3 separate regions of the Homo sapiens genome follow, and regions 2 and 3 are each linked to region 1. The links come from fine-mapping of genetic effects on gene expression. A gene starts in region 1. Each other region holds a variant in brackets. All regions are shown on one strand. Distances are between the middles of the regions.

Evidence for each region. PIP is the estimated chance that this variant, and not a neighbour inherited with it, causes the effect.
Region 2: its variant is fine-mapped to the expression of CACNA2D4 in whole blood (TOPMed, PIP above 0.99).
Region 3: its variant is fine-mapped to the expression of CACNA2D4 in caudate (GTEx, PIP above 0.99). The same link has a PIP of 0.9 or more in putamen.

Annotation. Positions count from the first base shown.
Region 1 is chr12:1,914,227-1,922,400 of GRCh38, forward strand. CACNA2D4 (calcium voltage-gated channel auxiliary subunit alpha2delta 4) reads right to left here and starts at 4,426. Exons shown (of 38, transcript NM_172364.5): 1 at 4,021-4,426; 2 at 628-709. The coding sequence starts at 4,247. RefSeq lists an enhancer at 2,499-3,075.
Region 2 is chr12:1,807,412-1,815,585 of GRCh38, forward strand. It overlaps CACNA2D4 (calcium voltage-gated channel auxiliary subunit alpha2delta 4), which reads right to left. Exons shown (of 38, transcript NM_172364.5): 27 at 4,251-4,312; 28 at 3,132-3,176; 29 at 2,867-2,929. It overlaps LOC105369601 (a long non-coding RNA gene), which reads left to right and starts at 5,785. Exons shown (of 5, transcript XR_931546.3): 1 at 5,785-6,451; 2 at 6,603-6,720. It overlaps LOC105369602 (a long non-coding RNA gene), which reads left to right. Exons shown (of 4, transcript XR_931549.3): 4 at 1-86. RefSeq lists an enhancer at 5,560-5,799. The variant C/T (reference allele first, on the strand shown) is at 4,526.
Region 3 is chr12:1,796,322-1,804,495 of GRCh38, forward strand. CACNA2D4 (calcium voltage-gated channel auxiliary subunit alpha2delta 4) reads right to left here. Exons shown (of 38, transcript NM_172364.5): 30 at 5,253-5,323; 31 at 4,722-4,797; 32 at 4,065-4,117; 33 at 3,679-3,731; 34 at 3,354-3,374; 35 at 1,097-1,214. LOC105369602 (a long non-coding RNA gene) reads left to right here and starts at 4,118. Exons shown (of 4, transcript XR_931549.3): 1 at 4,118-4,602. RefSeq lists silencers at 1-83, 424-553, 654-883 and enhancers at 1-810, 811-1,715, 8,172-8,174. The variant G/A (reference allele first, on the strand shown) is at 4,492.

The DNA.
Region 1 (8,174 bases):
TCTTAGTGAGTGGCAATGATAGAGAAGGGTGAGCTGCCATTGGAACTGCTCTGGGGAGTTACAAATATTAGAGAACAGTGAAGTTGTTTATAACCTGGTAAGAAGACCAGCCAGCCATAAATCGGCACAGAAAGCAATGCATATTAAGGGGGCGGATGCTGGACATGGCTCGGGGGCTGACAGCTGGAGGTATGGGAGGTCTCCCTGCGCAGAGGCCACAGCCCTTTCACCTTCTACGGCCCGAGCAGCTTCCAGGGCCCTGCACGTGCCCTCCAAGTCTCCGCTGGCATCACAGGTGTTAGGCCTGCATCCCACTGCATCCACTCCCTCCGTCTCTCCTTTATTCTTCACCCCACCTCCACCCAGTACATCTGCAGGTCTAATTCCACCTTGGCCTCTGCTCCCTGAGGACCTGACACAATGCTCTTGACCACGCCCCCGAACCACCCCCACTGCCCTGCTTTGGGAGTTGAGAAAATCATTCACCTCCCTGGGCCTCAGTGGCCCCATCTGAAATAAACCGATTTGATGGGATGCCCAAGGCCCCTCACAGCACCGGCATTTGGGGGCTTCGATGGCTGACTGCCCTCTGCCACCCGGTGGGCTCTCTGGAAGGGGGTGACTGACCTTCTGCAGCAAGAGAGAGCCTGAGTATTTGGTCACAGTGTTATACAGGTCCCCGCCGAAGGTGTCAGCCCATAGCTTCACTCTGCCAGGCAATGAAAGGACACGCGTATACACACACGTACACGCACAAATACAGAAACACACGCGTAGACATATGGGTTCACACACATAGAAAGCCAGTGTCTACACACAGACACCTGCTGATGCATGCATACTCCAACACACAGACACATAATGCATAAGAAATGCACACACACGTACACACACATACATACCCCCCACACACATGCATATGCATACACACACGTGACATATGCCCAGAAACACACAAAAGAGCACCTGTCCCTCCTCCTTGTCCCTAAAGCTACAGCCATGGCCTGGGCAGGAGACGCGGAGAACCCTCAGGACCCAGCGGCTGCACTGCTGTGTGCTGAATGTCCTCGGCAGGTTCTCCTGCTGAGGGTTGTGGGGCCGGGCTGACGAGCCCAGGACTGAGCTTGACCCCAAGCTTCCAGGGCCTCTGGTTGGAGAGTGGCAGACTGAGAGGAGAGAAGGAGGGGAGAGGCAGTGGACAGCCTCAGGCCAGGGCCGGAGGACCCTGAGGACAAAGGACAACCTGCCTGGCCACAGCTGTGGCCTCTCAATAAATCGTTCCCTCCAGTGCACTCCACTCAAAGCCACTGGGGGCTGCCGAACCCTCTGTTGAAACCTCAGAGAACGCGTGAGGCAAGGGCACAGCAGGAAAAGGCTCTGAGCTGCCACTGCTGAGCCTGAGGGCAGGGCAGGCCAGGAGGGCATAAGGAGGCCACACCTCACCCTCTGTGTAGGCAGCCTAGTGGGGAGCCCCGACCTCTCGCCCATGCCCCAGAAATGCACCACAATCCCACCATCTTGGCCAGGCTGGTGGGGTCCTGGGGGCAGGTACACAGGGCTGGGGCTGAGCCTCTCCAGATGGAGCGGAAGTGGTTTGCCTGTGCGATCCTTTCAAGATCAGCAGTCATCACTCAACCAATGTTTATCAAGGTCCTACCATGTGGCAGCCTGGAGCCACCCCACAGTCCCCACCCTTGCAGGGACAGCTTTGTCATGCGGGTAGCATAGTACATGTTTGAAGGTGCCCATGAAGGTTGGGGAGGGGTAGTGGTATAAGGGAAGGCTTCCCTGGGGAGGGAGATCTGAGCTCCAGGTTAGAAGTTTGGTAGAGGTTAGCCTGCAAAGGGGTCTGGGAGAGGATTCTAGGTCGGGAGTACAGAAGAGCTTGGAGGAGTAAAACGTGACTTCCGGGCTTCCAGTGTGGGTTGTTGACCTGATGGTGTTGTTACTGAATACAATTAAGACTATCAGGAAGGGCAGGGGGAATGAGCTGAGGAGGGTGAAAAGTGATGTGTGTACCTTGGGCTCTGCTGAATGTGAGGTTCCCGTTGTAGAGCTACCAAGTACCATTGGGAAGGTTGTGCACTGCACAACTCTAGAAGGCACCAATTGTGTTTTACCTTGAAAGACACAAATCTGAATTTAAAACCTCACATGATGTTTAGGAAAAGCTGCCCATAAGCACTGGGTATGTGTCTAGTAGGTAGAGACAGGGCTGGGAGTCATTGATGCAAAGGTAGGGATTGAAATTCTGAGGGCAGGAGGGCTCTCTCAAGGAGAGTGTGCAGCGTGAGATCTCTGAGCGTCGACAGCTGCTGGGGAGCACCCCCCACCTCCGGGGCAGGCAGAGGAGGAGGAGCACTTGAGGACAGCAGAGATAAGCCGTGCCCATGCAGGCCCAGCGGAGCGCAGTGCCACGGAAGTCAAGGACTGGGATAAAAGAAGACGGGGGCTTGTGTGTCCCAAGCAACAGGGTCTGGGGTGACAAGGCCAGGAATGTCTCCTGGATTGGGCATGAGGAGGGCTTTGGGAACCCTGTGGAAACAGACTTGGGAGGAGGTGGAAGCCCGGCTGGAGGGAAAGACTGAGAAGAGAGGTTCGGCGGGAGTGAGGACAGGTGGGGCCAAGTCCTGGGCAGGCAGATGAGGCTGTGTGCAGGCTGTTGTCTCTGGCAGCACCCAGGGCTTCTGCATAGATGGCCGCTGGGGCCCCCCTCCCTGAAGGCCTGGATTCCAGCCACCCCGACTTGGCCCTCAGCCCACTCCTGGAGTTGGCCCTCTCCTATCAGCTGGTGTGTGTTCTGGGGATGAAAATTGTTCTGAACATCTCCTGCAGCAACAGATAGCGTTACGGGCTGGCGGCGGGTGTAATGGTGAAAGTGCAGTCCAGGCTGACAGGAGTTCAAATCCCAGCACCTTCACTTCCTGGCCTTGTGAACTTGGGGAAGTCACCTGACCTCTCGGGGCCTCTGTTTCCTCAGCTGCAAAATAGGGATAAAAATAAGCCCCCACTGAATGGCTCTGCAAACTAACGGTGTCATTTGTGAAGCGCCCAGCTCCGTGCCAGGCAGGGAACAAGGAGAGCTATGCGGCTCGATGGGAAACGATGCTGCCTAATCCACTGGTCAGCAAAGGCTAAGCACAGGCACGGTGTGTCATTTAGGCTCCCTGTCCCCACTCCTGCTAAGACATGCAGTTGGCAGGTGGCTCTGTTGGTGGCCTGGCTATGGTGCTGGGCTCAAGCGGCTGGAGTAAACAGGATGGGGTCTGTAGCACCTACAGTCTAGAAGGCTCTGCTACCCACATGTATTGGAAATTTCCTTCCTAGGACCACCTGAGCTAGGGCCTAAAACACAGACACCCCAGAGAGGTTGCACAGTAATTTACATGTACACCAAGGTGCACATGACTGATACCGGGTTCTTTCCTGGAGCCGGTCTTAATGGCCGGCTAGAGAATCAAGGTTGGAAGGAGGCAGAAAGGTGTAGAAAGGGAAGACTGCGGCCACCAAAATCCATTTTTTTCCCCAGTTCCTGGACAAGCCACCTCCTGTGCGCATGAGACGTTCTGTGGGTTCAGAACTGCTTCCCCTTTTTGGAATGTCAAAATACGCATTTCCTGCCAAATGCTTCGGGGAGCTGCGATGCTGAGATAACCCGGCTCCTCCAGGCTGCCTCATCTCAGCGATTATCCTGAAGGAGCACCCGCCCTTCAGGTGTCCCAGAAGCTGCTTGTCAGGCCAGGAAGACAGCAGCCCTGATGATCAGTTCTTCCTAAAGCCATCCGGCTCCTGGGGAGAGGCAGGTGGGACTCCAGAACTCACAGAGCTTTTGGGAGGAGAAAGAGGAGGCCGGAGAAGCAAAGGGCTTTACAGCAAGAGAGTGGTCAGTCGCAGCCACTGGGGAAAAGCCCAGAGGGAGGGCAGGGGCGGGAGGAGTGGGCAGAGGATGGAGGCCCAGCCCGGGAAGAAAGTGGGAAAGGGTGACCGGGTTTTTGGGGTGGGGTTGAACGTGATGCTTACGTTTCCAGAGGAATCTTGGCCTGTCCCCACGCAGGGGACAGGGAGGTGCCTAGAAGCAGCAGCCACAGGAGGGCCGAGGTCTTCTGCACAAAGGCCCAGGCCACGGGCATTGGCTGGAGGGGAATCCAGCGGCTGCTGGAGCTGGGGTTTGCGAGGAAGTTGGGAGTTGCAGGCATGGTGGGCCTGGGGTTGGGGAGGGGAAGGAGGGCAGAGCAGCCACAGACCATGAGCTCTGTCTGCCTTCCTCCCAGACCCCAGGACGCCCCAGGCCTTTGTCTTCCGTGCCTTGGCGAGCCTGGGGTCTCCAGCCTCTCAGTCCTGGGTGGGGAGGGCTTCTCTCTGCCCCACAGCTGCAGCTCACAGAAGAGTCGCCCCACCTAGCAAGCAGGCCTCGGAGACAGGGACTGGGGGAGAGGCTGTGGCAACATGAAACCCTTTAATCCGCTGGCCTCTCCTCTAATCCTCTCCTGACAGCAGGGAGGGGGTGGCAGGGGGTGGGGAGCTGCCTCCCAAGATTACCACAACTGCAGCTGGTTCCCTCAGGGCTATAGTGCACCCCTCTGCTTTAAAGAGGCAGCCCCGTTCCTGTGGAACCACCTTCTGGACCCAGGAAGGGCTTGCTGTGACTATGGCCAGAGGACAGCAGCTGAGTTTGCACAGTACTCTGATTGACCCACAAATCTCTTGTTGACCCTGAGGTGGGGGTGTGTCCTCATCCCTGCTTGGCAGAGGCTCTTGAGGCCCGGGGAGTCCCAGGGGCAGAGCTGGGACTCTGGCTGGTGTTTCCAGGCCTGGTGCCTTTGGGACAGGTCATAGGTCATAGGTGAAGTCAGTGGACCCACGCCTCCACATCTCAGCTGCTCGTGGGCGGGGCTGGGGACGCATTTGCTGTGCAACTGATGAAGCTTCAGGACCCCTGAATCCACAGACTCCCCCCTTTCCCGGAGAGGCCCTAGCAATGTGTTCCTGTGGCCAAATGTTTTTGTAAAATATGCAAAAGTTGAGATAGTTTAACCATAACCGGTTGAGACTGTCTGTCTCTTTCCATCCCAACTTCTCTTCCGTCTGAGGGACTCTTAGTTGGATGATGTTTGGGTGGCTGAGGGCACTTGGGGGATCCAGTTAAGAGGAAAGTGAGCTGGGGAAACACTTAATCTGGGCTTAGTGGGATATGCTGACATGGTTCACAGTGACTTCTTTGTACAGAGAAGTTACCTCCAGCTGAGTGTAGGCAGGGCTTCCAGGAACACTCATCCCACAGGACATCCCACCAGCAGATGCAGCAAGAGAGGCTGGGCCGTGATGTGAGCGCACGCTGTCACACCCACCCTGGCCATGTGTGGTGGGGAGGGCAAAGTAACAGTCAGGAGCTCATCTGCAGAAAATCTACAAAAAGCCACACAGGTAACATCGTTGGTGGAGGATTTGGTTCTCACCAAGGCCTGGCCAGGACAGAAGTTCTCTCCTGTTAGGAAAATAGTGGATATTGAAAGAATATAATTACACCGTACATTGCTTTGTGTTCTGATGAGAGTTACACAAATTAGAATTGATCAAAATTCTTGTGTTGTGAGCCCAAACCAGTAGTAGTACCACATGGGTTCTCCGGGGGTGAAGTCATAGATTTTATGCAGTCCCCGTATCAGATTATTTTCTTAGTGTAACTGGTGCACTGTGTCTTCACAAAATCTGGTGGTTCCAGCAAAATGGTAAGCAAAATTGCCACCAACGCAGAGAAATGCTTGCAGAAGCAAGTGTTCTGATGACAAAACTCCTACACAGATTCATCAATAAGTCAGTGCTGTAGTATCAGAGTAATCTGGTGGCACAGTTTTGTGGCTGAATACAATGTATTTTTTAAAGGCATCTAAATGATTCCTATGAATGCCTTAATTTCACATAAATTTTGTACATGTTTTGAGGATTACAAATCAAACACATTTAGAAAAAATACTACAGAGGCACACTGGGCAGTCAATACATAAAAAGAATGTAACTTCTCTAGGTTTTGTGAATTTGGTGGAATTCACCAGCTTCTTAAAATTTGTAATTTGGAATGATTTTTAAAACTGAATAAATATTCACCTTTTTTCAACTTTTTTATTGTGGCCCAATATTTATTGTGGCATAAAATGTGCCATCTTAATCATCTTTTTAAGTGTACGGTTTAGTGTAATTAAATACATTAATCATGTTGCTCCACCTTCGCCGCCATCTATCTCTATAATTCGTTCATCTTGTAAAACTGAAACTCTGAACCCATTAAACACTAGCTCCCGTTCCCTCCTCCCCCAGCCGCTGGCGGCCACCACTCTCCTTTCTGTATCTCTGATGTTGACGGTTCTAGGGACCTCACAGAAGGGAAGTCATCACATAGTTGTCCTTCCATGACTGGCTCATTTCACTTAGCACAATGTCGGTAAGGTTCACCCACGGTGCCGCGTGTGTCAGAATTTCCTTACTTTTTGGGGGTGACCAATGATGGGTTAATATTTCATTGTGTGGATAGACCTCATTTTGTGCATCCGTTCCTCTATCGATGGACCCTGGGGTGGTGTCCTCCTTTTGGCTACTGTGAAATATGCTGCCGTCAACACGGGTGTGCAAATATCTCTCGAGATCCTGCTTTCGATAATAAATATTCACTTTTATTTTTATGTTTGTACCTGGGATTTGCATTATTTTTCTTTTATGGGTAACCACTCCCACATTATACAAGCTCCCACTGCCCCCACGGGGTTCCAGCACCCTGTCCGGAAAGCCTTCGCCTCCCTCTACTGTGTCAAGCGTGACAGCGGCTTGGAAAGCTCCGTCCTTCGCAGACACACTGGCGGCCTGTGTCCTGTGCGCCCCTTAGACATACTTAGGAAGCCTCAAAACCAGGCCTTCTCAGCCCAAGGCCACCGCCGGCCTCCAGGCGGCTGCCTCTGCCCACTTCCCCTTCAGGCTCCAGCGACGGCTTCCTTCCCTGACTGGTGGAGGAGGGGGTACAGCTGGGCTGCATCCTGCGTCCCCTACATCCACCCCTTTCCAAGGAGTCCTTTGGAAACCAGCTTTCCCACCTGTTTCCTGCGGGCCCCTGTCTGGTACCGGGCCTCCCCACCCTGCCTCTCATCATCTATTCTTAATGCAGCAACCGAAGGCTCTTTTCAAACGTAAGTCAGACCCTGTGGCTCCCTCCCTCTGCTCCGAAGCCCCCAGGGCTGCCCATCTCCCTTAGAGGAAAAGCCACAGTTTTGACCACAGCCACGAGGCCCTACCTGGCTGGAGCTGGCTTGATTTTAAAAATCATTCCAAATTACAAATTTTAAGAAGCTGATGAATGCCACCAAATTCACAGCCACGAGGCCCCACCTGGCTGGAGCTGGCTTGATTTTAAAAATCATTCCAAATTACAAATTTTAAGAAGCTGATGAATGCCACCAAATTCACAGCCACGAGGCCCCACCTGGCTGGAGCTGGCTTGATTTTAAAAATCATTCCAAATTACAAATTTTAAGAAGCTGATGAATGCCACCAAATTCACAGCCACGAGGCCCCACCTGGCTGGAGCTGGCTTGATTTTAAAAATCATTCCAAATTACAAATTTTAAGAAGCTGATGAATGCCACCAAATTCACAGCCACGAGGCCCCACCTGGCTGGAGCTGGCTTGATTTTAAAAATCATTCCAAATTACAAATTTTAAGAAGCTGATGAATGCCACCAAATTCACAGCCACGAGGCCCCACCTGGCTGGAGCTGGCTTGATTTTAAAAATCATTCCAAATTACAAATTTTAAGAAGCTGATGAATGCCACCAAATTCACAGCCACGAGGCCCCACCTGGCTGGAGCTGGCTTCTCCTGACCGCGCCTCTCTGGGCGCGGGCTCCCGCTGCTCCTTGGGTGCCTCAGGCGCGCCCCCCATCGGTGCGGCTGACCCCCGAGCTTGCAGTCCGCGCCGCGGCTGTGTCTGCCTGCTTCCCCCTGCGTGGCCGGCCCTCTCATTTCCATCAGTGTCTGGCGTCGGGTTTCCTGCAGGAAGAGCTGGTACCCCTGGATCGGGCAGCTTGAGACGAGTTTAACAGAGAGGCTATTTACAGAGGTGTGGACGGAGTCCTGCAGGGACACTGCAGTGGCCAGGGCTGGAAACCGCGGGAGCTAGCCCCTAAGC
Region 2 (8,174 bases), 110 kb before region 1:
GCCAGATTTTAAGTCTTCTGCTTGTAAGCCACTCTTTTTGCCATAGTTTGTGTGCAGCAATAGATAACTGCTCTAGAGTTGTTAAATGAGTAAGTTTTTTTAAAAACAGCAAAAACAGATGGACGGACAGAGGGTCGGACAGCTGAACAAATGGCATTAGCCCCAGACTCTCCGCCGCCCTGTCTTCCACTCATCTCCCAGTCTAGCGCCTGCTGCCTCCAGCCCTCACTCTCAGGCCAGTTCAGTTCTCCACACGGTTACCCAGTGTCTGCTGTGTGCCAGGCACCACACCAGGCAGGGTCTCTGGCCTAGTGCCCTCCCATAACCCGACACAGTTCAGGCTGCATGGTCAGAGCTGTCCAGAGTGAGGAAGGAGGAACTGGGCCCTGATCACAGTGGGGGAGCAAGGGTGAGCCAAGCACGGCGGGAGCGGGGGCCCCAGCAGGAGCCTCTAGAAGGTCAGTTCGTTTCTGCCCTGCTTCATTTCATGGAGGGTTTGGGATGGCATATAAAACTACACACGGGGTAAAAAGGTAATAGAATCATTGAGAAAATGGGGGTGAATGAGTTAAGTCAACAAATACATTATAAAATATAAATCTCTGAGTAATTGATTGCTACCACATCTAATCCAAACTTGTTCTCAGTGATTTTACAATCTGTGAAGACATGTGAGCAAATGTGGTCTGGACAGAATAGGACCAAAGTGGCCCAGTGGGTTATGAGAGGGTCCCTCGAGGGACCCTGGAGGGACCCTGGAGAGGCCACGTGCTCTCCAGCTTCTCTCAAGGCTGGGGTGGTTTCCCTCCAGGGCCGCCTCCCCGCACGGTTGTCCCGCTGCCTCTGGAGCAGGGGCTGGAAACTACAGCCCGTAGGCCAAGCCTGGCTCACTGTTGATTCATGTGAGCCCTTGATCTAAGACTGGCTTTTCCATTTTCAAGTGGTTGGGGAAAAAAAGTCAAAAGATTGATAACATCTCATGACACGTGAAATTTATATGAAATTCACATTTCAGTATTCAAAGGTTTTACTGGAGCAACGCCACCTGCATTTGCTCACAGATCGCCCATGGCTGCTTTCTTGCTACAACAGCAGGGCTGAGTCTCATGAAGCTCAAAACCAACATGTGCATCCGCCCCTTTAGGAAACGCTCGCCTACCCCTGCTCTTGAGCTTGCTCTCAGGCTTGGCCATCCTCTCCCTCTGTCCTGCCACCTCCCATCCCAGTGTCCAGGATGCAAGCTCTCTCTGGGATGCCTTAGCCCATGCTCCGGCCCTTGAAAGCCAACACCACGGGAGGCCTGGGGACACGGTCAGTCTCAGTCACCCAGGGCGAGAGGGGTCGGAGCACGAATGAGGGGGCATCAGTGATCCCAGAGCCTCACACCAACCACTGGTTTCAACTCTTATCATCACTGGTTTTCTCCCAGAACAACGGAAAAATACAAAGGTCCGGTGCTCTGTCTGGGGAGGAGTGAAATGACGAAAATGGGGCATGAAAGGGAGAAGGGGGAGGGTACCAGAGGCAGGCGCCCAGGTGACCGTGATGCTCAATTAGCTGTGTGTCCTGCAAAGCCCCGCCCACACTCCCACCAACAGGAAGTTGAACGAAACCATCTTTGGCTTCTCTACTCTTGTGGCTGAGAACTGCTGCTCGTTAAGTGGGTCATTTAAACACTACCCCAAGGAGTTAGATTTCATGACCCACTGGTGCCCCTTTGTCCTCACTTGCCCTCTTTCCCAAGTCTCCTTCCGACATCCCTGCTCCAGTTCCTGCCCTGTTCCGACGACTTCTTTGGATCCGAAGCCGCATCCCGGTCAGGCCAGACCACAGCCCTACCATGCGTGGAGGTGGCCTTGGCCACGACCTCTGCATCAGCCTCCACATCCCAGGAACTTAGAGCCCTCAGCTGGGGCTGGCTTAGACACTGTGTAGTCCAGCCCCCGGCGAGACACAGCTAATGGAAGTCGCTTGCCCACATCACGTTTCTAATTAGTAGCAAAGCTCACACAGAACCAAATACTATGCCCCTTTCCCCGAGGCTCAGGCAGGAGGCGGTTCTGATGCTTCTGCCTTGCTTCAAGGAAATACATCTGGTGAATATATCTGGATTTGCTTCAGGTTTGAATGGGCTTCTTTCTCAGTTTGATTCCTGGCTAAAGGAATAATCCATTTTGAGGCCCCTTTTGGAGCCCAGCAAGTATAAAAATATTATTGTACTTTCTCTTTTTCCTTTCTGAGCACATGCTGGGTTCAGGGAGATACCCACAGCCAGCGGGGGCGGGGGGAGGATTAGGATGTGCAAGCCAGGCATTCAGGCGAGAAAGCATCGCGTCCATCCCCCATTTCTTCTCTGACACACCGAAGGCCGGGCGTGGTGGGTGAGAGTATAATTTTCCATAAGGTCCAGACAGGACAAGAACATGAAGTGGGGAAGCCATGTCTTCTGGGCCCCACAATGGTAGAAAGGCAGGCGGGGGTTGGGGAATGATCTGATAAGTGAGTGTGCTTGGATCCTTGTGGGGAGGCCCCGAGTGAGGCTGGGCCAGTGTGGCCAGGCAGGGCCCTGAGATGGGGTCACTGAGTGGCTCCTACCAGGCACGGGAGGAGGCCAGGCTAGTGACAGATAAAATGAAGAAGTAATATTTTCTCTGACTCCCTGAGTTGAAAAGTGCTCCAAATTCTGCCTTCTTGCTCTGTTGACTTTGGTGTCAGAACACCATGTTCTTCAGACCTTTCACCTGAATTGGCCCCGAACAGGGTTCCCTCCTGGGGCCGTGGGGCTCTCTTTAGCTGGAGTGGCTGCCCAATGTCTCCAGTCCTCCTGCCGCCCTCTCCCCCTCATTCTATATCCCCAGTGACTCACCTCTCGGGACCTCTTGGAGATCAGAATGAACCCGTTGTTGTCGATGACGAAGCAGTCCAGATCCTGGGAGGAAACCCAGAAGGGAGGTTATGCCAGGGCCCTCACCCACCCCGGTCCTCCAGCCTGTCCCCCAGCTCTGGAAGGCAGCGTGGGAGCTTCACTGCAGGGAAGGAGGGCATTTGGGAGAGGGAAGCTGGCCTGCCAGGAGGACCGGGCGGAGGGCCATGGCTCCCTCCTCCACCTTCCTCACACGGGCAGAACTTACACTGTCCTCGCAGCTCTGTGTGCACGGCCCATCCACAGTGCTGCACTGGAAGGAAGAGGAGAGACTGAATGTGGACACTGCATGTGTAGTAGAAATGGCACGTGTAAGTGGGAATGCTGTGTGTGTGGTACGTCTGCAGTGTGTGTGCATGTGTGCATGGGGTGTGTATCTGCACATGGAGGGCACCTGTGTGGGGTGTGGGTGTGGGATGTGTGTGTCGTATGTGGAGAGCACGTGTGTGAGGTGTGTGCATGTGTGTGTCTATGTGTGGGGTGTCTGTACGTGGAGGGCACATGCGTGTGGTGTGTGTTAGCATTGTGTGCGTGGTATGCATGTGGTATGTGGCCTGCGGGTGCTGCATTCGGCAGGCCCTGGGTGGTGGAAGGGCCCAGGTAGCCCTTCTAGAGGTGCAGGCTCTGCAGCCCCCAGGCCTCGTTGCTGGTGTGGGGAGGGGACTTTGTGGGCTCTGTGGGGCTCCTGCACTGGCTGTCTGGTTGAGGCGGTGGGTGACCGCAGCCCCCTGCCCTCCATCCCTCTCGATTCACTCTTGGGCTCCCTGCCCTTGCCCAGAGTCAGGCGGCAGCAGCAAGTGATGGGGGCCGAGGGGCTCGGCGTTGCAGGAGATTGAGGCTGAGGGAGCTTGAGGGAGATGAAGGGGGCAGCTCAGAAGCCCAGAGGGACCTGAGGGCTCTGGGGAAGCAGAGGGGAAAGGAGCCAGTAGAACGGACAGGACGAGGCCAGGCAGAGCTGGGAATTCTCAGCCAGAAGCCGCTGTCGTCTCTGGCATCTCTTGCCAGCCATCAGGGCCTGGACCCCGGACCTTGGACGGTGGATCGAGGTGGCTCTCCCTTTTCAGCGGGGAGGCATGCCAGTGGCTTTGGAGTGGCGAGAAGGGGTGACTCTGGGTCGTGCCCTCAGCACTGGGCTGGCAGGGGCTGGGGACCAGCGCTGAGGCCCGGCCTGCAGGCTGGGGAGCTGAGGGGCTGAGAAGTGTAGGGGCCGGGAGGGCATCCTGAGAGCCTCAAGGCAGTGGAGCATCCAAGGGGAGGGAGAGGGGGTCTCACACCCAGGGGAGCGTGGTGAGTCCCCAGCCCCGACCTGGCCCGACATCACACCTACCTGCCGCGTTGCCGCCCAGAATTTGCGCTGGAGGAATTCCAGCTTCATTTGGACGCCCGCGGCTACAGGGCAGAAAGAGAGAGGGCAAGGCCAGGGAAGAGACGGGGAGAGAAAAAAATAGAGTCAAGTTAAAGAGAGGAGGTGCTTCCGCAGGAACTGAGGAGAGAGACCGCAGCGGATGGGAGGACTGAGTCAGAGGGCAGAGTGCAAACTGGGGTTTCTGGGGAGTGGGAGGGGTGGGGGAAGAACAGAGACGGCAGCCTCTCTCGTTCCCA[C/T]TGGAAGAAGAGCGACAGAAAATGCCCAGCAGTGATGAGGCTCCCATTCCAGAAAACAACGAGGGCAGATTCATCCTAGATCTCTGGGAACTCAAGGCCGGTGGATGGGACAGCTCAGTCTCCCCTTTCCCATAGATGGGAATATAGAGGCCAGAGAGACCCACCCTTTTGACCAAATCACGTGACCAAGAGTGGCACCCTGGAATTCAGGGCCGTTGCCCTAGCAACTCATGGGCTCCTTGGATCTTAACCTGGTGTAACCATTCCTTTCATACCCTCTGTCTGCTCAGGATCTTCCCTGCTTTATAAGGAGGCTCTTTTCCAGCTCAAAGCCAGGTTCGGGTTTGCCCAGGGCTGCAGGTGGGTTCCAGGAAACTACAGGCACCACCAGCTGGCAAATAGTTCTCTTTTGATGACTGTGCTTACAAGGGCCACCCCTGACTTTCTGGTTCCCAAATAGGCTTGGAGAACCCAAGCAGGTGCTCACATATCCAGAGAAATCTGGGACAAAGAGCTCCAGGAAAACTTGGGGCCAATGAATAGAAAGAAGAGGCAGGTTATATTGAAAAGAAGAAGAATTTCAAAACTAGGCCAGCTTCCTAGTGTCTGGTATAATAATATCAAAACTGCGCTGGGCGCTTAGAACGTGTCCAGCACCTCACATGCATGAGTGTATTGAATCCCACAGCAGGCCAGTCCTATTATTATTCTGACTTTCCAAGCTGAAGAAATGGAGACTTTTCAGAGTCACATGGCTTGCCCAAGTCACCAGCTTGTTAATCACAGAAGCAGGACTGCAGCCTGGGCCTGTCTCTCCCTGAAGCTGCCTCCTCTCTGGACCTGGACTGAGTCCTGGTGATCGGGAAGGAGCGGCGGGCACAGGCAAGCCGCTGTCTGCTCAGGCTCGGGTTTCCTCATCTGTGAAACGGGAACGGATGTGGCTTCTTAACCATTACGCTGTGTCCGTCACAGTCATTCTCACTTCTCGAGTACCCAGTTGGTGGGAGTTCCAGTATGGCACAGAGATACAGGATTGTGTTTTTGTTTTTTCACTCTGGAATGATCTTAGAGAAATTTGATGGGAAAAATGAGAGCAGGGAAGGGTCAAAGGCCAGAGGTCCAGCCCTGCATTTTCCAGGGTTGTGATCTTTGCGTTTCGTCTCCTCAGCTGCAAGATGAGTCACGGTTCTACTTCCCCTGGAAGGGCAGAAGTTGCATAAGATTGTTGAGGCTCAAGCGAGATAATGTGTGAGGCTGTTACTCCAGACTAGAGCCTTGATTTTTAAACTTCAGCGTGCATCAGAATCGCCTGGAAGGTTTGTTAGAACCCCGCCCCCAGAGTTTCTCCTTCAGGGGGTCCAGGGTGGGCCTGAGAGTTTCTGAAGTGTTCCCAGGGGTTGCCGATGCTGCTAGTCCAGGCACTATATTTAGGGAACCCCCGTCCTAAAGCCTCACCAATTGAATCTCCTAAGATGATGAAGATGGCCTACATCTGTGCTGTCCTAAACGGTAGCCAACAGCCACACGTGGCTACTGAGAACTCGGAGTGTGGCTAGCACGCCTGAGGACCCGAATTTAAAAAACAGTTAATTTTAATTAACTTAAATTTAAATAGCCACGTATGGTTGGTGGCCAGCGTTTTGGACAGTGTTGTTCTAGAGCTCATCTGAGTTTGCAGATGAAGAAACCGAGGCTTTGAGAGGTACCTCCCCTCCCTTGGAGTCTCATGGCAATCCTGGGGTGGTGCTCCGGCTGGCTGGCCTTCTTGAACAGGTCCTGTGATATGGGAACATTTGAGTGCTTTGGGGGTGTCTTTGTTGCTTTGAGTTCCAGGTAGCTGAAAGGAGTGGGCTGGAAGGGGACGGGGAGACCCATTTGCTGGCTCATGACAAAGATGAGAGCTGCAGACACAGCGCACAGCGGCAGGTGAGGTGTGCTCAGGGCCTAGCATGGCTGTGCTCCTCCTCCCGCTCATGTGCCCCTCTAAGGTTGCGGGGACCCCTCGGTCTCTTCTCCTTCTTTTCCCTTATAAGACCACCCTAGACATTCATTTTAGACAGATTTCTTTCACCTGTAGGAAAAGGCTAAATGAAAGAGGATCATCAGAGCGAATCACGCTACTGCTCAGAATGACCAGCTCTTCGGGATTGAAGAAAGCTTCCTTCATCCTGTCCTTGGCCTCCGTGGTCAAAGAGGTCTCACATTATTCCTAGAATGAGACTCTGCCTTTCCATTTGATGGCTCAGTGTCAAGTCGCATAGAATCATGAGATTTCTGAGCTGGAAGGAATTCTACGATTCTAACATGGGGAGTCTGGAGAGGGTGGGGGTGTAGGTGTTGAGGCTCCTTGGGCAGAAATGGGGGGAGCAGGGCACAGAGCATATTTTCCCCCACTTGGTTCCATTCCAGGCTCCTCCAAGCCAAGCTGTGTGTCTTGCCCCGGGTGTCCTTTGCGAAATTTAGGGCATTGCAACCGCCTATTGGCATGTCATCTGCCCTTGGGTCACAGAGCGCTAATGAGTGCGTTTTACAATCCTCTTGTAAGACAAAAAAGTTCTGCAAGTCCCCACTCGACCCAAGAAGTCCAGCTGGCTTCAGCTCTCACTTTGAACTTAGCGTGTTCTCCCCCAGACCTGACCCTCCTTGAGACTTCTCCATTTCAGGACACATTTTCTATCTGATTGCTATCACTTTCCCTCCTCCCATCCAACGTCTGCACACCTCAGTTCCAAAACTTTATAAATCTGTCCGCTTCCCTCCATCTCCACCGTTACCACCCTTGGCCAAGCCAACATTGCTCTCACTTGGATTAATGCAAGCACCCCCGAACTGGCCCCCGCCTTGCATCCTGCCTCTCTCTGATCCATTCTCCACATAGAGTGGATCTTTCTGAAGATCAAATCACACCACTCCCTGGCTTAAAACCCTCTAATGTCGTCCCATTGCTCTTTTTTGTTTGTTTTGTGTTTTTGAGACAGAGTCTCACTCTGTCACCCAGGCTGGAGTGCAGTGGCACAATCTCAGCTCATTGCAACCTCCACCTCCCAGATTCAAGTGATTCTCCTGCCTCGGCCTCCCTAGTAGCTAGGATTACAGGCGCGTGTGATACCATGCATGGCTAATTTTTGTATTTCTAGTAGAGATGGGGTTTCGCCATGCTGGCCAGGCTGGTCTCAAACTCTTGACCTCAAGTGATCCACCTGCCTCAGCCTCCCAAAGTGCTGGGACTACAGGCGTGAGTCATTATGCCTGGTCCCCATTGATCTTAAAATCTAAACTTGCAAGATGGCCACAGGAACTGGCTCTGCTGATTTCTCTGATTTCATCCAGAAACACTTCACCTCTCAAACATGTTAAGCTCATTCTCACCCCAGGGCATTTGTACCAGCTGTTCTCTCCTCCTGGAATGCCCTTCCCCTAGAACTTTACATGGCTGGCTCCTTCCCATCGTCAGGTCTCAGCCCAATATCATCTCCTAGAGTGGCTGTCCCTGGCCTCCCGAGATAAAGCCAGCCAGGGGGACCTCCCTCACTTTCACTCTCTACCTTATTACTTTTTAAATTTTCTAAGTGACATGATTTGTTCATCTATTTGATTTCTCATTTATTGTCTGTCTGGGGCTAATAGCAGGCAGGGGATTGAGTTTTGA
Region 3 (8,174 bases), 120 kb before region 1:
GATGGGCGGTCTCACACACCCAACGTGCACACCACAGCCGTGTATACTCTCAGCCTTCACGGCTCTGTATGAGGCTGGTGTTGTGCCCATTTTGCAGATGAGAGAATGGAGACTAGAGGAGGCGAAGTCACTTGCCCACGGTCATAAGCGGGGGAGCGCAGAGCCAGTTTTCAATTCAGGAGTGTCTACTCTGAAGCCCTCGCTTCACTCCGGAGCCCGCTGGCTCTATCCTCGCACCGAGCCTTTGCGACAAGTGCACAGGGAACGCTAACCCCAGCCCTCAACGCTGCACAGAACCCGGGGTGAAACCCGCGCAGCACGACGCGCAGGGAGTGGGGGAGAAGGGAGCCCCGATGCCAGCGCCGCAGGTGCCGCACTGTTAAATGGTGTGCCACGGGCCCGGGGGTCTAGGGACCGCCTGGCGAGCGGCACGTCTGGCTGAGGCGACCCTCGAGGAGGCCGCCGCATTCCCAGCGTGGGGGTCCTCCCGGGCTTGGGTGCGGGGGGTCAGCAGGAGAGACCCTTCCGCGCGGCCTCCCTGCCTCCCCGGGGCCAGGGCGGGTTATAACTAGCGGCTTCCACACAGCAGGAAGCCTGACAGAGGCTGCCCGCGGGGCTCCCAGCGACCCGAGGACATCGCACACTTCCGGCCTTCTCTTCTCACACTCCCTCTGCCTTCCAAGTTCTCCCCACGCAGCTCAGGCGCGGGCACTGGCACCGCCCTGGGCACCGCCTGAGCAGGGCTGGGGGAGACCCGCCGAAGGGCCCACTCGCCCAGAGACGCCGTGGGGTCACGGCTGCGGCCTCGGCGGGGTGGGCTCGACACACAGGGTCAGGCCTCGGGACCACCTCTCCCCATCCCGGCTGTCCCGGTCCCCAGCCGTCCTGCCCGCCTCAGACCGTCCGCCTCCTGCGTGTCTCCTCCACTGAGGACGGCGGGGGAAGACCCCGGGAGCGTGGGCTCTGCACTTAGACGCATCCCCTCCTCCCGGCTGTGGAGCCGTTTCCCGGGGGTTCCGGGGCCCTGCCCGCACTTCCGCCTTGCCGAGGGCGGGAGGAGTGTGGCGGGACGGGCGGCGCCGCCCTGCGGTCTTACTTCTGGCAGGGCCCGCACTCCACGATCCCGTTGGCCTCCCGGATGGCCGGCTGGTACACGAACACGGGGTACTCCGTGTCGCAGGGCTGCAGCGGGTCCTGCTTCTTGTGTTTGTGGGCTGCGGGCGGAGAAAGGACATCACGCCACCGAAGGGGCCTCTGGCCTGCGGTGACCTCGCCTCGGCACTCCCAGGGCCAGAGTTCACCCCAGTGCATTTGCAGAGGGTCCCTCCTCAGGCAGTTCTCAGGACACGCGTGGGAGGAGCCGGGCGGGGGGTGAGGGGAGGGAAGACACCCGGAGTCTCTGGAGAGGGTGGCTTGGCACGGGGAGCGCCGCAGGGGCCCTGAGCCTCGGTGGAGGGAAAGCGCTTCCTCTGGGGAGCCTGGCCCTCACTGAGCTGGGGGCAGTGCACCATCTCCAGGGCCCCTTCCAGCACTCAGATCCCGGGGGAGGGTCTGAGCGGGGAGCAGAGGCAGTAGGGGCACCAAGGGGTGGCTTGGGGGTACTTAGGCCCACCACCCCTCCCTTCACTGTGGACAGACGCAGTGCAGTTCCTGGGCAATCCTGCCCTGCTCTCCCGCACAGCCAGGCCCACACTCCACCCATTGAGCCTGAGCGCCTGCGGTGGGGGCAGCCGGGCAGGTGGGCTCCAGGCCTGGGGCTGCGGAAGCCCAGAAGCCACAGCCACCCGGTGCGGGACTCCTCGGGGGCTGCGCGATTTGCCTTAGCTCCCTGGGACAAGGACAGTGGACTCAACCAAAGGTGGAGGCGAGTGCCTCAGCCCCGCTCTGCAGGACCCGAGTCCGTTCCCTCCCGGAGCCTCCTGAGGTGGGCACATGGCAGAGCAGGGCCCTGCCACACAGGCTGTCTGCATGGCCCTTCTGTTCTCAGGGCCTGGCTGTGGCCCCCAGGGATAGACCTAGAGGCAGGGAGCACAGGTGTGAGCTACCTTCCCAGGCTCATGCAGAGTCCTACAGGAGAGCATGGGTCTCCCCAGCTTCCAAATCCAGAAGCTCCCAGCCAGAGCTGGAAACCCAGAGGGGACACTAGCTGGCGTGCAGAAAACTCTCACCGAGAGGAGCAAGCCCACAGCGGCCAGGGCTGTGAGTTTTGTCCCCAGGGCTGGGCACAGAAGCCTGCCTGACAATGGCAGGGTTGAGTGGCGTCCCCAGGGTCACGCAGTGGAAGGGGCTGCAGCACCTACGCCCCGGCCTGGGACTCCAAGTCCAGTGCGCCTTCACTGGGGACACTGACATCTGTGTAGGCCAGACCAGGGGGAGGAGCTCCAGGGGACAGGTACCCCAGAGAAGAGAAATTCTGAGCAGGCAGATTGAGGGGGATCATCTTCAACTTTTGCAAGATGCAGCTGCTGACAGAGACAGAGGGGACAGTGTCCTGTCACTGACACCTAGTGACTGTGAACACCCCAGAGCAGCCCCACCCGATCGCGGATGTGAGTCCAGAAGGAGTCTGGAGACACAGCCCGAACTGCCCTGAGCCCAGGGGCAGAGGAAGCCCCAAGCCAAGGCCAGCAGAAGAGAACGAAGAGCAAGCCAGAGAGAGGACCACAGTGGAGATGAAGAGATGGGATAAGCTGGGGACAGCCCAGGTGGTGGGAAGTTCTGGAACCCCATGGCAAAGGTTCTAGGAACACGGAGGAACTGAGCAGAGCCCGCTGAGGCAAGATGGCCTCCTGCAGTCATGGAGGGCCCAGGCGCCCGGGCAGTGAGTGCTTTGAAAGGCCAGGCTCATTGCCGCCCTGCACGTGTGGCCACAGCCACCGGGCTTTGTGTTGGGGCCTCTCATGGTTGCTGCCTCTGGGGGACTCTGTCCTCAGACACAGGGTCCCGCAGGGGAATCATCCTGAGAGCTTCCTGGGGCCCCTGGAACCCGGAGTCCCGCTGAGGGCTGGGGTGCCGCTGTTTGCTTCTCCAAGGGGTGGGCTGGAGGTTGCTCACTCATACTGGCTCATGGCCACCCGGCCACACCACCGGCTTCCTCTTGGAATCTTACGTGTTCTCACCCAAGGGGAGGCTGGAGTTTCTCATTTTCCCTGGGGCCTGACCGTCCTCATGTGGGATGAGAACTGGGCTAGACTCCCCAGTCCCCCAACCCCCAGGAATGGTACTTTAAACCAGGAGAGCTCAGCCCTGCTTGGGGTCATTCCTGGGACAGGTCATGGAGGGTGGGTTCTTTGTAGCTCCTGCTGCGTCCCCAACCCACCGCCAGCAGGGATGGCCTCAGCTGGGCTACTTACAGTGATGGAAGACACTTTTGGCTGGCCGGAACATAAGCCCAGCACAGGGTGGACACGGCACAGGAAAACATGGTGGCACATGAGGGCAGGATGTCATGGGGTGGTGATGATGGCACATGGAGTGGCGGTGTCCCAAGATGATGTCACACACAGAGCCAGGAGTGAGGGATGTGATGAGAGAAGGCCACGCAGGGTGAGATGTGAACAACGATGCTTCAGGGTCACCTATCCCCACTGTCACCCACCCCACAGGGAATGGTCTCACGTTAGTGGACCAAAATGCCACTGCTCTTCAGCACATGGCCCTGCAGCTCCGTGCACTCACCCTCGGCCCCTCTGTCGTACCAGGAGCCCCAGACACTCCACTCCAGCAGGAACCTGTCAGACACAGGACTGAATCTCGGAGACCTCTGAGCCCTCCCGACTTGGGTTCCCAAGGAGCTGGAGTATCCCTGACAGCCCCCGGCCCATCCCCTCTCCTCCAGGACACCCTCTTCCCTGCTTGAGGGCTCTGGTTGAGCAATGAGGTCCCTCCCAGGGGCAGCATGCAGGGAAGAGGTGGCGTCCATGCCCAGGGATTGTGCCCTCCTTCCCCGGGGTCTGGTAGCAAGTGGGTTGTCCTGGAGACCTTGCAGCCTCCTGCTCAAGGACACCCTCCTAAGCCACCCTCGCATGCAGCCCTCCACCAGCCCCGTGTCTACCCCCACTCACAGCACCAGCTCCTGCAGCAGCCACCTGGTCGCCGTCAAGAAGGCAGAAATTGGCTGGGAAGGAGAGAGTGCACACCGCTCGCACCTAGGTCCAAGGGTGAGGGTGCCCCCCCCCCACCACCAGCACCACCCTCAGAGAGACCAGAGAGTGGGCTGCCCTGCCACTGGGAGCAGGGGCAGCAGAGCACAGGCCAGCAGCCCAGCACCCCCCATCCCCCCACCTCCCACCTGCCCTGCAGAGCTGAGCTAGCTGGGAAATGCCTATTGCAGGTCAGACATCTCGGGTGGGGTTGGACATGCCCCTCCAGGAGACGAGTCAAGCCCTCATCCTGGTGCTGCACTGCTGAGGATCCCTGGTGATCAAGCGGCAGTGTCAGGGGCTGAGGCTGGGGCAGGCTGCTCTCTCTGTCTCCGCCAGAGGCACTGTT[G/A]TGTCACAACTACCAGAGCAGTCCCTCTGAAGCCCCAAAGCCAGACCCAGAGGCCTGCCTGGGAGTGGGACTGAGAGCAGTGGCTCTGAGCAGAAGATGGAGATGGTCAAGGTAGGGCCCTGGGGCCAGACACCCAAGGTGGGTGAGAACAGGGACCAGTGACCTCATTCCAGGACAGGGCAGAGGACTGGCTGGCTGGCTGGCAGAGGGAAGGGCTGGGTGACACTCACGCTGACCAGGGGCTGGGCTGCACTGTGGTGGTGACTCGAGGGTTTGCACATGGCCTGATAGTCATACATAGTCACTCTGAAAATCAGAAGCGGGCTGTGATGAGTCCAAAGCCACCCCCACCCCCTGCCCCTGCCTCAGGAGGCTTTACTAGCAGAGCATCCGTTTACCGCAATTCCCAAGGGCGCCTGAGCTAGGACAGCAGATCAGAATACAGCTCATGCTGAAAATTACATTTCTGCACTTGGAATGGTTTAAAGACAATGAAGAGCAAATGGCTTTTGCCCTCGGAGTTGGACGGTTTTCCCTCTAGGGTCTGAGCTGCGGAGCCCCTCCCAGGGATGCCCACATGCCCTTACGCCCTCCCCACATCATGCTGACGCCCTGGCTCCATAAAGGTTGCTTTTGCAGCTCTTTGGGGGCACCCACTGTGGGTTTTGGAGGTCAGGATCCTGAGATCCGCCAGGACCACTTAGCGTCAGCTCTCGGTTTGCTGTGTCTATTTGGACTGGGGAGGAGTGTGCCCCACTTACTGGCTGAACACCCCCATGCTGAGCAGCTGGGTCAGGACAGCACCATCCACCTCCCCCAGAAATCTTCCCGTCTGTGAGAGAGGGACAGCAGAGAGAGAGGGAGGGAGAGAGATGGAGCAGGATGGAGCCTTCCGAGTCCAGCACTATTTATTCAGCTCAGGTCGAGGCTTTTGGTGCCAGTTGGGCTTTCCCTCTGACTGCCTCTCAGCATAATCCAGCTGAACCCTTCCACCCACGCCCCTGTCCGGTCCTGGCTCCCTCCTCACCGTCCAGCCTGGTGCTTCCTCAACTGGAAGGAGTCACCCGCTAGCTGACTATGAGACCAACGTAGAGGCTGCAATGTGATTTTTTTAATGGTACAGAATTCCTTGGAACAATTCTGTGTGAATCACTTGCAGCAAGGTTAAAGAATGTTTTATGAAACTGGATTTGTTTTATATGCTGTGTGTGTGTGTGTGTGTGTGTGTGTGTGTGTGTGTGTGTGTGTTGGGTCAGATATAAAACACGTTTCTGCAGGTCAAGGTCAGAAGCAGCGCCTGTCTCATGCACGCTGGTGTCCTCATCTTCCCAGTGTGAGAGGGCTGCTGTGGCTTTTGCTGTCCCTCCATCACCTCCCACAATCAGTGTGCCCTGTGGATCGGTCATTTGTCCCCTCCATGACAATGACCTAACCGGATCCCTTGCCCTGTCTCCATTGCCCACCTGCCCTCCTAACTGACCTCTCCTCTTGTCCCTGTGGCACTGCCAGAGTCATCTTACTCAAATGCAACATGGATGGGTCACTCTTGCCTTCATTTCCAAAAAATAAAACAGGACCCTCCCTCCTGCCCCCGGCTCCCCTTTTGTTGTCCATCAGCCAGCACTTTGTGGCTTCTGTGCCCTGTGCCAAGCAGCGGCCCCCTAGCTGGCTGAGAATGGCCTCAGGCCCTCCACTCTGCCACCTCTCATGGCCTCTGTACCTGCCTTGGCCTCTTGAGTCTGCCATTTCCCAGCATGTCAGGGTGGCAGAGCTTGGGCTTTGGTGTTGGATTTCGACTTTAATGTAGGCTGTCTTTAAAAATTGGGGATAGCGTGTGTCCGGCGTGTGGCTCCCAGTAAATACTTGAAAAATGGCAGCCATCGTTAGGAGGAGAGGTCCGGGGTCCGGCTTGGCTGTTCTCCCTGCCGATTACCCTTCCTCTGTCCTCATGCCAAGGAACTTCTTTCCTCACCCTCGCTGGGAAGTCTTTCTATTCTAACTTTCCCAGCCAGAACAAGGCCTTCCTCTGCACACCGGCAGCCTGTGGAGTCCTAGTCTCACTCTGCCTGATAAGATATTTGGTTGAAAACTGTATGAGAACAGGACCATGTCTTACTCATCTCTGAATTCCCCAAAGTGTCTTGGTACCTGGACATACTCAGTCAGTGTGGAATGTTGATAGGGAAGGGAGGTGGGAACCAAGCTGATGGCCACGTCAGGTTCTTCATGGAGAGCTTTCTAGCTGCCAGGGCCCAAAATGATGACATGTGTGATAACTACCAATAAAAAGAAATGCAAGGCTGGTACAGGAGCTGAGGCACATGGGCCTGGCCAATCTCAAGGAAAGCCAGGCATTGTCTGGGTGCCCACCTGGGGCCTGCCCTGGGCAGCCAAGTAGACTCCAGCAAGCCTTCTGAAGGGAACAGAGATGTATTCCAGACAAGGGCTAGGCAGAACGCACAACTCCTGAACACCCAATGAACAACCAGAGAAGTTCTCTCTCAAATAAGAGATGATGGTGCAGCTTCAGGACAATAACCCCAGAACTGTTATGCCCATGGTTCATAATGCTGTGACTTATAATCAGCCAATATGGGGCCACAGGTCCCCAGATGCGCCCACACCAGGAATCTGGGATGGAGTCAGGAAGTATTACTTTCCAAATTGGACTTAAATAACAAAACATAGTCCTTACATCCTACAGTATTTCCTGTGTAAGTGGAAATGGCTGACTTATAAAATTAAAACGTAAGGATGCAACCCACTAAAAATGCATGGCAAATTGTAATCTAAAAATGGAGGGTCAATTACAAAAGTAAGCAGCAGGAAAACAGATTCAGACAAAGGTGCTCACACTTGTCTGTCTACACTCTGCTAGTTCTTTACCTGGAATGGCCTGACCACCAAAAACTATTTCATAATACCTTTTATTCATAAGGCACTCACCAGGTGAGTCTGATGCAAAGATGAATGAAATGGACACGAATCAAGAGCTTCAGACTAGTTTGCATGGACAGGCAGGGAACACACAAACTCTCAGACATGGCTGGCTGAAAACCGGCACCTCCTACGGTGGTGGAAAGGAGTGGCAACCTAAAGCCCTGGCAGGCTGCATGAAAGAAGGCAGTGGACATGGCAGCGGGACAGCAGGGAGGGTCAAGGGCATTCCAGGGACACAACAGCACATGGGAATGTGAAAGACATTGAAATCCTGCCTGTTCTTCACGGCGCAGCCCTGAAGCTCTCCCTGGTGCCTCCAGCTGGAGTAAACTCTCTCAGCTGGGGCTCGCTTTTTGCTATTCTAGTTACTGTGTGTGTGTGTGTGTGTGTGTGTGTGTGTGTGTGTGTGTGTCCCCTCCGTCACCCCCTCACCTGACAGCAGGATTCTAGGGGACAGAAATCCACTTCTGTCCCACAGCACCACACCATGTCCTGTTCACAGTTATTATTCCATGCATATTTGCTGAAGGAATGTGTGAGGGAATGAATGACCCGAGTCTTCTGCTCCCTGGGAAAGTGCAGCGGGGTGCAGACAAGGCTTCTGACGAGGCTGGTCTTAATTCCTACAAACCTGTCCCATTCTCCTTCCTAATTCTAGGCTTATTCACCAACAACCCTGTGGTTTAGACCCTGGATTCTGAGAAGAGAGGTCCCTGAGAGCAAGGATGTGTATCCTGGACACT